2 separate regions of the Homo sapiens genome follow, and region 2 is linked to region 1. The links come from fine-mapping of genetic effects on gene expression. Tissue or cell type: whole blood. Region 1 holds a variant in brackets; the other region holds the start of a gene. All regions are shown on one strand. Distances are from middle to middle.

Region 1 (8,000 bases):
GAGACCCCTCACTGTCCACCCTCATGTCCTATGAGACCCCCTCACTGTCCACCCTCATGTCCTATGAGACCCCCTCACTGTCCACTCTCATGTCCTATGAGACCCCTCACTGTCCACCCTCATGTCCTATAGAGACCCCCTCACTGTCCACCCTCATGGCCTGTAGAGACCCCCTCACTGTCAACTCTCATGTCCTATGAGACCCCCTCACTGTCCACCCTCATGTCCTATAGAGACCCCCTCACTGTCCACCCTCATGTCCAAAGAGACCCCCTCACTGTCCACCCTCATGGCCTGTAGAGACCCCCTCACTGTCCACCCTCATGGCCTGTAGAGACCCCCTCACTGTCCACCCTCATGGCCTATAGAGACCCCCTCACTGTCCACCCTCATGTCCAAAGAGACCCCCTCACTGTCCACCCTCATGGCCTGTAGAGACCCCCTCACTGTCCACCCTCATGGCCTGTAGAGACCCCCTCACTGTCCACCCTCATGTCCTATAGAGACCCCCTCACTGTCCACCCTCATGTCCAAAGAGACCCCCTCACTGTCCACCCTCATGGCCTGTAGAGACCCCCTCACTGTCCACCCATATGGCCTGTAGAGACCCCCTCACTGTCCACCCTCATGTCCTATAGAGACCCCCTCACTGTCCACCCTCATGGCCTGTAGAGACCCCCTCACTGTCCACCCTCATGGCCTGTAGAGACCCCCTCACTGTCCACCCTCATGGCCTGTAGAGACCCCCTCACTGTCCACCCTCATGGCCTGTAGAGACCCCCTCACTGTCCACCCATATGGCCTGTAGAGACCCCCTCACTGTCCACCCTCAGGACCCTCTGCATTTGCTCCTTGGGTTCCCGGAACTTGAGCTTGGGTCTTGGTCCACAGCAGCTTTGGGAAGGGCCCTCGGCTGCTTTTTGCTTCAGCAGCTGGGGAGCAGTTAACTTTCAGACCCGGCCCTCCCCCAAGGCAGCTCAGGGAGGGGCTGGACACTCGGTTATTTATGTATTTACTTATTTTTAAATCAAAGCACAGCAAACATGACCATGTGGGGGTGGCCCAGTGGACCCTCACAGTGAGCCCTGGGCCACACAGAACATGGCCCTGGAGCACCCCTATGAGGTTTTAACAGGGTTTTGGGGGACCTTGGTGCTTCCTAAAGTTTCGGGATGAGTCCCCGGGGTCTCCAGACTGCGTCTGCCTCCTCGTGCACCAGAGGGTGGCAGTAACTGTTCATGTTTGCCCCATCCAGGGGTTTTTACCAGGGGTACCTCATCCTTTCTGGGGAGTGGGGAGAGCACCTGAGGGGGTCGGCCTGGAACAGGAGGTTGCAGCCCATTGCCTGAGTCTTAAAGTGTGCCCTTCCCCACAGCACTTCAGGATCACTCTGGGACCATCCTAGGATTAGGAATTTTAAAACGTTTAAAAAAAATTATTTTCCTTTTTTTGGGGGAAATTGGTTATACATCCAGATGATTCAAAAAGTAAAAGTTTAAAAATAAATAATAGTTTAAAAAATGCGCAAAACAAAAAAACTGCATACAGTGAAAAGGAAGCATTTCTTTTTTTAAAAAATTTTATTATTATTATACTTTAAGTTCTAGGGTACATGTGCACAACATGCAGGTTTGTTACATATGTATACATGTGCCGTGTTGGTGTGCTGCACCCATTAACTCATCATTTAGCATTAGGTGTATCTCCTAATGCTATCCCTCCCCTCTCCCCGCACCCCACAAAAGTCCCCGGTGTGTGATGTTCCCCTTGAAAAGGAGGCGTTTCTGCTTCTCCTCTTTCCGGTCCTTGACAGTGATTCCGTGCATCACAAACACACACGCTCCCTCAGTTACACGAATCACAAACACACGCTCCCTCAGTTTTGTGCATCACAAACGCACACGCTCCCTCAGTTTTGTGCGTCACACACACGCTCCCTCAGTTTTGTGCGCCACAAACACGCGCACTCCCTCAGTTATGTGCGTCACAAACACAGACGCTCCCTCAGTTTTGCGCATCACAAACACACACGCTCCCTCAGTTATGGACATCACAAACACACACGCTCCCTCAGTTTTGTGCTTCACAAACACACACGCTCCCTCAGTTATGGACATCACAAACACACACGCTCCCTCAGTTTTGTGCTTCACAAACACACACGCTCCCTCAGTTATGGACATCACAAACACACACGCTCCCTCAGTTTTGTGCTTCACAAACACACACGCTCCCTCAGTTATGGACATCACAAACACACACGCTCCCTCAGTTTTGTGCTTCACAAACACACACGCTCCCTCAGTTATGGACATCACAAACACACACGCTCCCTCAGTTTTGTGCTTCACAAACACACACGCTCCCTCAGTTATGGACATCACAAACACACACGCTCCCTCAGTTTTGTGCGTCACAAACACAGACGCTCCCTCAGTTTTGCGCATCACACACACGCTCCCTCAGTTTTGTGTGTCACAAACACACACGCTCCTTCAGTTTTGTGCTTCACAAACACACACGCTCCCTCAGTTTTGTGCATCACACACACATTCCCTCAGTTTTGTGCGCCACAAACACGCGCGCTCCCTCAGTTTTGTGCATCACAAACGCACATGCTCCCTCAGTTTTGGGCATCACAAACACATTCCCTCAGTTTTGTGCATCACAAACGCACACGCTCCCTCAGTTTTGTGCGTCACAAACACACACGCTACCTCAGTTTTGTGTGTTACAAACACACACGCTCCCTCAGTTTCGTGCATCCCAAACATGCTCCCTCAGTTATGTGCGTCACAAACACGCTCCCTCAGTTTTGTGTGTCACAAACACACACGCTCCCTCAGTTTTGTGCATCACAAACACACACATTCCCTCAGTTTTGTGCGTCACAAACACGCGTGCTCTCTCAGTTATGTGCGTCACAAACACAGACGCTCCCTCAGTTTTGCGCATCACACACACGCTCCCTCAGCTTTGTGCTTCACAAACACACACGCTCCCTCAGTTTTGTGTGTTACAAACACACACGCTCCCTCAGTTTCGTGCATCCCAAAGACGATTCCTCAGTTTTGTGCATCACAAACACATATGCTCCCTCAGTTTTGTGCGTCACAAACGCGCGCTCCCTCAGTTATGTGCGTCACAAACACAGACGCTCCCTCAGTTTTGCGCATCACACACACGCTCCCTCAGTTTTGTGTGTCACAAACACACACGCTCCCTCAGTTTTGCGCATCACAAACACACACGCTCCCTCAGTTGTCAGGGGACTTTGCACTGTGCCTTTGCATGAAACACCATGGCTTGAAGAGGTCCCGCATCGTTAGGGCCCCCTTGCCCATGGTGTGGCGTCCCCTGACCGATTTAGCCGTTATTGAGGGACATCGAGGTTGCTTGGTGTGGCGGCCCCTGACCGATTTAGCCGTTATTGAGAGACAGCCAGGTTGCTTTCAACGTTTTCTTTTTCACAGACAGTGGTGCCAAAGGCGTCCTTGGACATGAGTCGTCTCCCAGTGGGTGAGCACATCTTAGGGCAGATTTCTGAAGGAAGATGTGCCAGGCAGAGGGGGTCTGAAGTTTTAACTTTGAAGGGCGTATTGTCACACTGCCCTCCACAGAGCTTGTACCACGGAGGTGGTGGCAGTGTCTTGCTGCCCATGCCTTCCTAATGTGTGTGTTGTGAAGTCTCTCGTTCTTTCTTTTTAAAAATTTATTATCTTTAATTTTTTAAAATGTAGAGACAGGGCCTCACTATGTTGCTCAGGCTGGTCTCGAACTCTTGGGCTCTAATTTTTGTATTTTTAGTAGAGACAAGGTTTTGCCATATTGGCCAGGGTGGTCTCGAACTCCTGACCTCAAGTGATCCGCCTGGCTCGGCCTCCCAGAATACTGGGATTACAGGCCCTTGACCCATTTTTCTTATTGTGTTGTTGGATTTTGTCTTATTGATTTGTACGGGGCGTTTACATATTAAGGAACTTACACCTACATACTTGCAGATATTTTTTTCATTTTTTTCTTAAAAAATTTTCTTTTGAGAGACAGAGGTCTCACTGTGTTGCCCAGGCTGGTCTCAAACTCCTGAGCTCAAGGGATCCTCCCATCTCAGCCTCTCAAGCAGCTGGGTCCACAGGTATGTGGCACCACCTCCCCTGGTTTGTTATTTGACTTTTGTCTTTGCTTAAGGAGTTTTGCCATAGAGAATTTTCTTTTTATTACATGAGGTAATTAATCTTTTTCATAATATCCCCCTTCCCCCATGCTTTCTTCTAGTACTATTTAAATTAAAAACTTTTAAATCTTTTTAAATCTATCCAGGCTTTATTTTGGTATAAGAGCCAAGGTCGTGATTGATTGGTGTCAGTTAGCATCCATGGAGGAGACAGATGTCACCCTCAACTTGGGAAATTTGAGGAGAGATGAATAAAGGGACTAAGATGTGGTTGGCATGTAGAGAAACCACTAAGGCTAATGCTGGGTGGGACCCCTCAGGCCTCGGAGGACACAGGGAGGCTGCAAGGGAGGTGGTCCTGCAGGAGCAGAGACCTGGGTGTGGGGAGACTCGAGTGCAGGACCCTACAGGGAGGGCTGGGGAAGCAAACACCCACTCCCAGTTGGCTCCCTGCAGGCCAGTCCCACCCAGCAGCCCGGAGTCAGGCAGCCGCAGGTGGCCCTGCAGGTCACAGAGGTGGAAAGTGGGGTGGGCCAGATGCTGGACAGGTGCAGCACAGGACGCTGGGATGAGCTTTGCCAGATGTGGCTCCATTACTGAACCAACAA[C/T]AACCGACTTGGGGGATGGGCACTTCCAGAAGCTCCCCAGGGCACCTGGACTCAGCCCCCAGGGGTGCAGTGTGCGGTTGGGTGTTGGAGGCCTCAGGTCTGGGCCTAGTGGAGGCCAAAGGGTAGGGCCAGTGTGGAATGAGCTGACCACAAGCTGTTCTAGACAAGGCTGTAATCTGCCTTTGTGACCCCAGGGCTGTCCATGGGGAGCTCTATGGACCTCTCAATGTCAGCGTTTTGGGGTAAGGGTGGGGGTCAGGTGATGCTGGGATAGATGGGGCAGGGTCTGTGGGGGTGGGGAGGGCCGGGGAGGCTGTTGTCATTCATTCATCCAGTGCACACGGGTGAAGCCCTGCTCTAGCCACGCCCTGGAACAAGGCCATGAGGAATCAGACACTAGCGGTTACTTTTAACGAGCACCTACTGTATGCAGGTTCCTTGTGTTGACCTTCAGGAGCTCATTTACTACTCACAACAACCCTGCCGTCTAAGTGAGGAGACTGAGTTTCAGAAAGGTTAAGTAACCTGCCCGTGGTCACACCGAGCTGGGATTCGAACGCGGGACTGGCTGACTCCAGGCCTCAAGCTGTGTTCTGCTAAGCTGTGCTGCTGCCTCTGGGAAGTCTCACAGAGATGAAGGCCAGCCTGTCTCCACTTTTGGGGAATTCACCCTCCATTGGGTGGGCAGAGGCCTCATTATCAAATAAGGACAGCGGAGAGATTCGTGCTGAGCCACATGCGCTGTCCTGCACTCACCCATTCTTGCGGCACGGGAACTGAGCACGTATGTTGAGCTCCTGCCAAAAAGTTATGATGCTTCTTTTTTTTTTTTTTCTTTTTGAGACGCATTCTTGCTCTGTTGCCCAGGCTGGAGTGCAGTGGTGCAGTCTCGGCTTACTGCAAACTCTGCCTCCCGGGTTCACGCCATTATCCTGCCTCAGCCTCCCGAGTAGCTGGGACTACAGGCACCTGCCATCATGCCTGGCTAATTTTTTTTTGTATTTTTAGGAGAGACAGTGTTTCACCATGTTAGCCAGGATGGTTTTGATCTCCTGACCTCGTGATCGGCCCGCCTCGGCCTCCCAAAATGCTGGGATTACAGGCATGAGCCACCGTGCCCAGCCAAGTTATGATGCTTCTTGACATAAAATCTTTAAGCATTAAAACAATATTAAATCATAAAATCAGTATAAGAAAGTCTAAAACATTGCAGATTTTCCTGAGGTCAACTTAAACACTTAAAAAAAAAAGCCAAATTCTTAAAACAATTGTTTTTGGTGTCCTGCTTTGATGGTTCCCTAAACACTTGCTCTGACTATTAGAAATTCTGTACCTGGGTAGCTGGGGCCCCCGTGGAGAGGGAGCAGCTCGCCCAGTGAGAGAGGCTTGGCCATTGTCCTGCAGGGACTCTGCTGTTGGGGGAGCGGGCAGGGCATGTGCAGTGTGGGGTGTGGCATTCAGAGGGAGTGGCCTCCACAGCCCTGTGGCTGGGGTAGGGAGCCCAGGGGGGCCATCCATGTTTCTCTTGAGGTACCTGGCAGAAGGCGGGTGGGGGGGGTGCGGGGGGTGGTCCTTGACAGCAGAGCAGAGAGAGATGGTGGTCAGAGGCCCAGGCGGGCTCCGATTAGGCCCAGGCCAGGGTCCGGGATCCATAGGAACCCCTCGACCACCAACAGGGCCTTGAGCACCCTGGCCAGGGCGGAGGTAGTCCAGGACAGAGGACAGTTTTGCCAGTGGTGAGTGGAATTTGGGTTAGGGGTAGGGTTAGGGTTAAGTTCAGGCGCTTGGGAACAGACAGTGACCAGGAAGCCTCCGGCAGCTGTGGGCCCCAGGGCTGACCTGCTGCTCGTCCTGCTGCTCGTCCTGCCCCGTGCTCCACCGTCCTGGTTTGCCCAGGTGAAGGGGTTTCCAGGACTCTCCGTTTTAAAACCAGCACAATCTGGGCCAACTGGGACACACTGGTCACCTTGCTAATGTGTCCCTGTTCCTGAGGGGGAAAGCGGATAGGCAGTTGTCCCCCAGGGCCCAGGGAAAGAAGCCAAGGCAAGGTGCAGACAGATTTCCCTGCCCCAGACTAAGGGAGCTGTGGACAGAGGCCTTTGCTGGGAGGTGCTGGGTCCTTTCCTCCAGGCAGCGCTGGGATTTGGGCCCCGAGACCTCGTGTTTCTCTGACCCAGGGAAGAAGCCTCTGTCCACTCTGGGCCTTGCCCTTCTTTTGTTTTCCTTGGTGGAGGGAGGGAGAGGAGGTCGCCAGCACTGTTTGCCCGAGTGAGGCTCATTTCTCCTTTGTCTGCACAAGGCTGGACTGCCCTGCATTTTCATGGTAAGTTTGTTTCTTCAAGCCGTTGTTAAAATCCTGGAGGCAGAGAAAATGCATTTGCTCCATCACCTTCCCTGAGGTGACAAGTCCTATAAAACCTGTTAAAGCCTTTAATGAAATCCCTGCTCAGAGCTGCTCTGTGAATGAATGTGGAATCAGAATTTAAATTAAAATGTTGCTCTTGTTGTCTGGAGGCTTTGCCTGGGAAGAAATGAAAGGGGCAGCTCACCTTTCTGCCACCGTTCTCAGGCCGGGTGGGCGCCATGACTAGCCACCCTCTGACCCAGGGCTGGGGGCCCACCTGTGACTCACGGGCTGGGTCAAGATGCTAGCTGGATTTCAAGGCAGTGGCTCTCCCCACACCTGAGACTGTCCCTGCTGCAGGCCCCACAGAAAATCCCACTGAGGGGGAAGGTGGGTGTGCCTGTGGACCAGGTAGCCACTTGGGACTGGAGGTTTTATGTACTCAGAAGCAGAGTCAGTCCCTGAGCTCACAGGCTGATAGCAGGGGTGTGGGCAGACAGCCGCCCTGGAAGAGGAAAGAAGAAAGTGAGAGCGACTAAGGGGCTCTGGGGTGTGTGAGTGGGTTGGTGCAAGGTGGAAAGGAGGCAGGGAATGTCTTCCCAAATGAAGGGAGCAGGTGGGAGGCCAAGGCAACGGGCATGAGGCCTGGAGGCCTCGTGGCTTGGCTGGGGGCAGTACCAGCCCCGCTCCTACCTGTTCAGCCTCCCCGCTGCAGCTCTTCCCTCTTTCCTTCACGGAGTCCTGCTCTTTGGACTTAACACACTCAGGAGTCTGTTGTTAAAAAACAAACCAAAGGCTCTCTTAGCCTCGACCCCATCACAGCCAAGTTCTGGAGAGCTCTCTGCTCCATCTCCTCTTGTCTCCCCCTCCTCCT
Region 2 (8,000 bases), 56 kb before region 1:
CATGGGTGGGCGGAGGAGGTTGCCCAGGCTCCGTGGTACCAGCTCTCAGACCCTCACCACAGCCTGGGGGTCTGGGGAGAGGGGCCAAGGTTCTGACTGAGAACCTGAAACCCCAGCCCCTGCCTACCCCTTAGGAGGGGTCCTGAGAGGGTGTCTCCCTAGCGGGGCCTGCTCCTGCCTCTGGACCCAGCTCTGCCTAGGGCTTCTACCCCGACCCCAAGCTTACAGCAGGGCTGGGAGGGGGTCCAGGATCATTGAGGAGGGAGCTGCAGCAGCTTCTGGCCCCTCCTCCCAGGCTGGGCCCCAGATGAGGCCCCCACTGGAGGTTCCGAGACACCCCCATCCGCTCACTCCCTGGGAAGCCGGAAGCCTGGGTTCCTCTTTCTTGGTTTCCGGCTCCCAGCCCCTCCCAAAGGGGCCCCGAGAGTCTGGGGCTACCAACTGGTGCGTGCGGGTGGTGGCCAGACTGGCTTCTAGGGTGTCTGGGGTGGGGAGTGGGCAGAGTGGCTTCCCACCAAGAGTCCAGGTCTGTCTGTGGGTCCCAGAGGTCTCAGCCAGGGGCAGCAGGCTAGACCTGCAGCAGTGAGGATTTAAGTGGGACTCAGGCTGGACTTGCTGAGGGTGTGGGAAGGGGGGCAGGGCCCCGGTGAGGAGGGACATGCCCCCCAAACATGGTTCTTTGGTCCTGCTACCTCCCACCCAAGACTTCCCTCCCTCCTTGCCCACTGCCTCTAGGCTGTGAAACTGCTGTGGAACCAAGGCCCTACCACAGGGTGCGCCAGCCAGGGAAGTGGGGGTGGCAGGGGTGGGGGGCACCCTGCTCCCCAGTCGAAGCCTCGGAGTCCCTGAGGGGGGTGTGGTGTGGTGCATGTCCCTCCCAGCATTTGGTTGCACCGTCTGCAGGGGAGGTGCACCAGGAGCGCCAAAGCTGTGAGTGGCCCTCATGCCACCTAAGATGCCACTTCGAATCCCAAGTCTCCTTGGGCGATGGTACAGGGGGGCCAATCAGTGCCCCGGAGGCAGTTGTGAACACCTGCGCCCACTTCTGCCCAGGGCAGGGAGGGGCCTCCGTGCACATCCGCCACCCTCCTCATGTGCCGCCACCCTCCCTGGCCAGGAAGCTCACAACTTGATTCTACTTTATTTTCTCAATCTTCATCCCCCCGCCACGCCTCCCCTAGCTCGTGGCCTTTGAATGCTTGTTTCTGGCTGGTTGGCTTCTCTTGGCCTCCTGGGACGGTGTGTGAATGGCCCTCAGAAGAGACAGTGCTGGAGTTCTGCACTCTTAGGGCCCCCAATACCCCCGAGGCCTGGGCATGCAGAGGCCACTGCCCTGGCCCAAGTCTGGGGCAGGTGCAGCATCCCCTGGGACCTTGGCCCCTCACCACCGGCCCAGTTTCCTCTGAGACTGGGGGTCCCACGGGCTCCTAGCAAGTAGATGAGGAGACCGAAAGTAGCCCTGCAGCTGGGCTTTCTTTCAGGGGTCAAGTTTCTAGGGAAAGGAAGGGGCGTGGCAACCTGAGGTTTGGTAGCTGTACCCAGACGGGGCTGTCTGTGGCTTCCCCAGGCAGCAGTTCTTCCTCCTCTCTGTCCCCACCCAGGGTCCTCCCCCACACTCTAGCACCCCTGAGACTGTCCCCCTGGGCTACCATCTCCACCCCAGCTCTGAACTGGAGGAGGGGACGTGTTTAGGGGTGCAGGGCCGGGGTGCTAGGGGCTGCATTTGCTGCAGAGCAGGGAGCCAGCCCCTTCTTTCCCAGTTGCAGGCCCTGGACCTGGTCACCTGTCCCTGGACCTGGCTTCCTGTACCCTTCTCAGGTCAACTGGGGCAACCCATGTCCCCAGGCTACCCTCCCCCCGTCTCTCCTGGGGGATACAGAGTCTCAACTAGGGTCCTCCTGCTTGTCAACCTGGCATTGGGGACCCCCTTCCCCAGCCTCCCAGGCTTTGGCCCCCAAGTCTGGGATGGGATAGGCTGGATAGGCGGCACGTCTGCTCTCTGGGGATAGAGGATCCCTTGGGAGTGGCTGCCGCTTTGCTCCACAGAAGGAAAAAGAACGTCCCAGAGCCTGCCCAGTCCAAAAAAAGAATAAGAAAATGTGACAATCCCAGAAAAAAATGTCATAACCTTTGGGAGGGGGGTTGAAGAGGGGCTCCATTCTCAGTCCTTAGCTCCTACCCAGGGCCTTTCCCATCTGCCACCCTCCACATCTGGCTGGTGGGCGAGCCCTGGCCTGGCCCCTCCAGGGAAGGCCAGCTCTCCCCACCTCTGAAATGGTGGTGGTGGCCCACCCACCACGCTCCTCTCTCTGCTGTTAGGGTCCAGTCTGGAGAAGCCTGTGTTCTCCTCCAGGTGCCTCTTTCTTCAGCCTCTGACGCCCCCACCCCTACCTCAAAGCTCCCTACTCACCAGCGACCCAAAGGCGGGGTGGGGGCAGGAGGGGCCAGGTTGGGTCTGGGCCCCACCCTGGCTGCCGAAGGGGCGTGCACTGCAGCAGCAGGGACTCAAGTCAGACGGCAGGAGGGACTCCTGCGGCGCTCTGGAGGGAGGCTAGCGCCAGGAGCCCCCGATCGGCTGGGGCCGGGGGCGCAGCGCCTCCCCTACAGCTCGAAGGGCTGAGTGGCTGCCAGATCCAGCGGGGTGGGGGCGGGGGCGGACAGGGTGTCCCGCCCCGGCCCCTCCTCACCGGGCTGAGAGGGGGAGGGAGACGCGGAAACCTGGGTTCTTCCGGCCCCCACCTTTGAGCAATCACTTCCCCAGGCTTTGAGCTCCAGAAAAAGGGGAACCCGGCTGCGGCGCCCCCTCCCCCACGCGCGGGGGGCGGGCTCCACTTCCACTGCGGCCCAGGGTCCACGTGGACCTGGCGGCGGGAGCCCTTGGGGTTCGAGTCCCGTGCGCCGGCTCCCGAAGCTCCCGCCCAGCACGGTCCCCGGGCCCGGGCCGGGAGGGGCAGGGCCGCTGTCCCCGGCGCTGCGCGCGCGCACTCACCAGCCGCGCTCCCGAGCCACTCGCGCCGCCGCCGGCCCGCGCGCTCCAAGGTCCGGCCCGACAGTCGGGGAGGGGGCGCGGGGGCGCAGTGCGCAGGCGCCTCGGCGGCACTTCCCCAAAGCCAGGGGCCGGGACTTCCTCGCGCCGGCGGTCGCCGGGCCCGCCCCGCCCGCCGCGCCCCGCCCCGCGCTCGGCCGGCTCCGCACCCCACCCGCCCCGCCCGCGCGTCGGCCCCCACAGTCGCCTGGGGGTGGCCCGGAGAGTCGAGGTGCTCATAGTGGAGCCCTGGCTCCCGGGCGGACGGAGCCGCACGGTAGTAGATGGGGGTGTGGCCGTGGCCCCCGACTCTGCTCGGCGGGGCCGTTCCTGCTTTGCCATCCGTGTGGGACTTCCACGACAGTGGAGGCACGAGAGCTGGGCCCCATATGCTGCTTGCCCAGCTTGGGAAAGAGGAGGCTGCTGCAAAGGACCGATCGGCGGGTACGCCAGCCCGGCCCACCCCTCGCCTCCGTGAGCCGCGTCTGTAAAACTGGGTTAAGAGCCGCCTGTCTGTGCTGTGGGGGGTTCCCAAGGAAGGGGGAGATTCCTGTGCTGCGGGGCTGGGGAGAACTGGGGGTGCGGGTTCTTGCATCCGGAGTCATGCCGAATGTCTCCTGTGGGGCCTGGCAGAGTCCCTGCTGACCCGTGTGTCCCAAGATGTCCTAAAGCTTAAGGCCACACTGTCCCCTTTGCCACGAACGCCCTGTCCCTTTGGCCGACTCTTCTCATCCTTTATGACTCGGTACAGACGTGGGTTAGGCTTCTCATCGCAGCATGCTTTGGCCCTGTGTCAGGGTGGCCCTGACCCTGCTCTGGAAGTGTCTGCAGAGCATCTGTGCCCCCCGCCCCTCCCCTGGCCCGGCTGTGTGCAGCTCCTGTCCTCCCCAGCACAAGCACTCCACCCGGATAGTTCCCAGTGTCGGGATCTGTTCATAAAATGCCTTCCAGTTGCACAGGTCAGGTGCACACCTTACACCTTCACAGAACTCTGAGGGGTGCAAAGGCAGCTGGAGATTCTACTTGTATTCCTCATTCAACGGACAAGTATCAGTATCTGGGTGCCCCTGTGGGCCAGGCAGTAGGACCAGAAGCCAGCAACATAGATCAGCCTGGATCTTATGCTGGGGGGCGCAGAGTGAGTTGTGGGGAGCAGGCAGGGAAGGCCTGGGTGAGAGGGGGGAGGGCTGAGGAGGGGAGGGTATTGCGCTGCTGAGCGGGGGCGGGGGCCCGAAGGGGGAGGTCAGAGGTCAGAGGGCCCTGGAGGACAGACAGGCTGCCTCTCGAAGCTGTACCCAGAACCCTGTGACTGCCATGTTGTCAGGCCAGGCAAGGAAAGGCAGGGGCCAGGAAGCCCACAGGGACAAGAGGCAGGCTGCTACTTATTCAGCCCACATAACACTCCTGAGCGGTGGGCACAGGTGAGGTCAGGGAAGCTCAACGAAGATGGGCCAGCACCTGGCCCAGGCCACACACAACCAGGCTGACCCCGCTGAGCCGGCCTGTTGTCTCTGCTGTGGGAAAATGCAGCTGTGGGCAGCTGGCAGGGGGTGAAGGTCAGTGCCCTCCCTGCCCCCTCGGGTCACTCTACAACCCCCCAGTCATTCCCCCGTCTCCTCTGGCCCCTTGGGCCTGCTCTCCACCGCCCTGGCTTCTGCCTCTCGGCACACAGCATCCTGAAGTCCATGGGTGGGGCCAGGTGAGCTGGGCAGTTGATGGCGGAGCTGGGATTTGAACCCAGGACCCTCTGCGCCCTGACAGCCCTCAATATATTGGGCTTTGGACCACATGCCTTCCTTCCCATAGAGCTTTCTACAGGCAGGCGTCCCTCCAGGCCCCATTCCCCAGCCTCCTTTGCACATCCAGCACCCCCTGCGCCTTTTCATGGGGATCAAAGGGCCCGAGTGCCGGCCTGACCCTGGTGCAGTCACTGAGGTCACTGTCTTGCTGGCCTTCTCTGGGTGCTGGGTCTGCTGTGCCTGTCTCTGCCCCTCTTCCCTCTTGCCTGTCTGATGCAGAGTGACCCATCCCCTTTGGAGCACTTGCTGCTGTGGGGTACTGCACCAAGACCCTTATTTTAAAGATAAAGAAATGGAGTCTCAGAGAAATGGTGAAATAATATGTGATTCTCCCAGTAGATGAACTCATTCTAGGCACTCAGTCAATCCCCAAGACACAGAATCCTGGGGTCCAGGCTGCAGGGAGTTTGGCCAGACGACACCAGGGCTGGCTGTCATCACATGTCACAAGCACATCAGGGTGTGAGTGGCTGCCACTCCTGGACAGACTGCCTCCCTTCCCTGTCTGTCTGCCCCTGCTCAAGCCCCTTCTCCCTGGCCTCCTTCCTCTCTACCCTTCCCTTCCTGAAACCCCTCCTGCCATCTCTCTGTCCCCTCCTTGTCAGCTGACTTCTGAGCTCTGTATACAGTCTGGGCTTGGGTCAAGGCCAAGGGCAGCAACAGCCCAGAAAGAGTAAAGTGCTCGGTGCACGGGGAGAAGGGCTGGCTGAGGGGCGAGTGCGCAGGGCTCCACCCCCTGGCCGGGGCTGGGGAGAAACACTGGCTGCCATGGAGCAGGATCCCTTCTGGACCCCAGTTCTGACCTCTGCCCCTCCTTCCAGTCAGCTGGAGCCCCCTAGCAGGAGGAGCGGTTTGTCTGAGTTCCTGCGGTCCCGCTTCTGTGCAGCCTGCTGGGCAGGGGGCTGGGAGGGAGGAAAAGGAAGCGGGGGCCTAGGGAAGCCCCAGCGTCTGCAAAGAGCTCACGTCGGGGAGAAAAGTAAGGTCTGCCCAGAAACCTCGGGGCTTTTCAGAGTCCAGGGATTTTGTAGGTCGTGGGCCTGTTTGTCAGAATGGGACAGGGGTGGCTTCCTTTTGTACTGCATGCGTGAGTGTGTGTGGGGTGTGTGTGTGTGGGGGGGTGGGTGTGGGGGTGTGGCATGGGGCATTAAAGGGGTCACAGGAGGCTATTCAGGATGGAAAGGAAGGCCAGAGGGTGGGATTTTTGTCTGGGGGCCGCAGGGGTTCCCCTTGCCCAGTCTCTTGGTCCTCTTGGGCACAGCTGCTGCTTCTTCAAAGGCCAGCTTAGGTCACTTCCGCTGCCCACAGCACTGCCCTCTCCCTGGCCCCCTGGTGGGATGACTCGCACTCGAGACCACTGCAGCCTGAGGCTACCCTTACATCTGGGGGTGACTTCTGCTGAAACAGGCTCTTTCTCCGTCCTCCCCAAGACTGGGGGCCTCCCATAGACCCACAGAACGCCAGGTTGCCAGTGGGGGGCAGATCGGGATTAGGGGTAGGCGTGTCCCTGACCTGTTACTTTCACACCCACCCACTTGCGTCTCCCCACTTTTTTGGGAGAGGCCCCACTCTCTGTACCCTGATGTCTGTGAGGTGCATGGGAGAGGCAGCGTCCATACTCCCCGCTTCCCTCGGGGTCCTGGGGAGTGGCAGCAAAAAGACCAGCGAGCCTTCGGAGAATTATAACTTTATGTGGGAGGCTGGGGCGCGTCGCACACTCTCAGTCGCCGTCACCGCGGGAAGATGGTGCCATCCACGTTCTCCTCCAGGATGGTCTCCACGCGCCTCCGCTGCCGGGGAGAGAGGCTGGGGTCCGGCGTGTGCGGAGGCGGGCAGGGCCCCTCCCCTTTCCCCGCCCCTACCGGGGCTTGTCTGCACCTCTTGGCGGTCCAGGGGGTCCGGGATCCGCGCGGGCTTCAGCTGCGGCGGCAGGAACAGCTCCAGCCGGATGGCGGCGCGCGCGGACTTCTGCCGCTGGATGAGCAGCGCGATCTCCTCGGCCTGCGGGGCCCGGGTAGCTGAGCGCGCGCCGAGCCCCGCCCCGCCCCGCCCCGGCCGGCTCCGCTCAACGCTCCCGGTGCGCCCCCTCTGCCCTCCGACCCCCTCGCCTCACCCGCATGCGGGTGTAGCGCAGCCGCAGGGCGCGGACTCGCCCGCGGGCCTCCGCTGCCTTGAGGACGCCGAGGAGCCGGTTCTGGCGCTCGGCGGGCAGCTCGAGCGACTGCGTCCACGGGCGCGGGTCGGGCATGCGGTACCCCGGTTCCACCGACCCGCACGGGAAGGTGGAGGCCGCCGCGCCCACGTCCTCCAGCAGGTCGCCGAAGAGCAGATGGCGGTGGCGCTGCGCAGGGAGCATGGCCGCCAGTCCCTGCGGCGTCAGGGCCCAGCCCGGCTTGGGGGGCTCTGTCGCGGGCGCCCCCTTGGCACGCTCCTCACCCTGCGCCGTGCCTGGCGCGCTCTTCCCGCTTCGCTCCCGCGGGCCCTTGCGCCCGCCCTCCTTCGCTGGCGGCGGCATCCTCCCGCCCTGCGGAGGGAGGAGGGCGTCCCGTCGGTGCCGGGGCTGGCACCGGGCCCTGCCCGCCCCTCGGCAGGGCCCCAACGTGCGCCCCAGCTCCCGCCCGCTGGGCTCTCCGCAGTCGGTTTTGAGTTCCGCACCCCCAGCCTCTGAGCTTTGCCCAGGCGCTCTCCCTCTCCCAAGCGCACGTCCCCAGCAGCTCTGCCATCGGCTGATCCTGCTCAGTCCTGCAGTCAACTAGGACTTTCTGATCAACTCAGTTGTAGGAAATATCTTTCCTACCCGATGGACTGTTCTGTTTGAATTGAGAAAATGCTGAGACCCCACTGGGTTGATCTCAGGCCCTGCCACATGGAGAGCTCTAGGTGACGCCTGGGGGACCTTCGTTGTGCCCCTATGTCTGCGGTCCCCGACAGTCAGGGTCTCCCACCAGACAGCTCGCTCTTGCCCTTCGAGGCCTAGATGGTTGTGGGGAGCAGAGCCTAGAGGGCAGGTGACAGAGGAGGGAGGGTCCAAAAGCCCAGCTGGCTCCTCCCTTCCCGGCCCCAGCCTACAGCTGCCACCTTGTCCAGCCAGGGCTGGGCTCGCTGTGCCAGAGGCAGAGCCACGGCCAGCCCCAGCGGCGGCTAACGCCCCCGCCCCTCCTTAGCTCCTGCAGCCGAGG

What was found. PIP is the estimated chance that this variant, and not a neighbour inherited with it, causes the effect.
Region 2: OPRL1 starts here. The variant in region 1 is fine-mapped to the expression of OPRL1 in whole blood (TOPMed, PIP above 0.99).

Annotation. Positions count from the first base shown.
Region 1 is chr20:64,133,094-64,141,093 of GRCh38, forward strand. LOC105372727 (a long non-coding RNA gene) reads right to left here. Exons shown (of 3, transcript XR_937008.2): 2 at 7,820-7,897; 3 at 6,789-7,138. Among named protein-coding and RNA genes, the nearest start is that of MYT1, 27 kb to the right of the region's middle. RefSeq lists enhancers at 4,209-4,710, 4,711-5,210, 7,047-7,960. The variant C/T (reference allele first, on the strand shown) is at 4,783.
Region 2 is chr20:64,076,884-64,084,883 of GRCh38, forward strand. It overlaps OPRL1 (opioid related nociceptin receptor 1), which reads left to right and starts at 3,199. Exons shown (of 5, transcript NM_182647.4): 1 at 3,199-3,469. It overlaps RGS19 (regulator of G protein signaling 19), which reads right to left and starts at 2,635. Exons shown (of 6, transcript NM_005873.3): 1 at 2,411-2,635; 2 at 1-71. The coding sequence starts at 3. LKAAEAR1 (LKAAEAR motif containing 1) reads right to left here and starts at 7,515. Exons shown (of 3, transcript NM_001353425.2): 1 at 6,935-7,515; 2 at 6,700-6,822; 3 at 6,493-6,611. The coding sequence starts at 7,336. The coding sequence ends at 6,552. It overlaps MIR6813 (microRNA 6813), which reads right to left and starts at 127; the gene lies at 72-127. RefSeq lists silencers at 2,537-3,216, 3,610-3,783, 6,608-6,667, 6,848-6,927.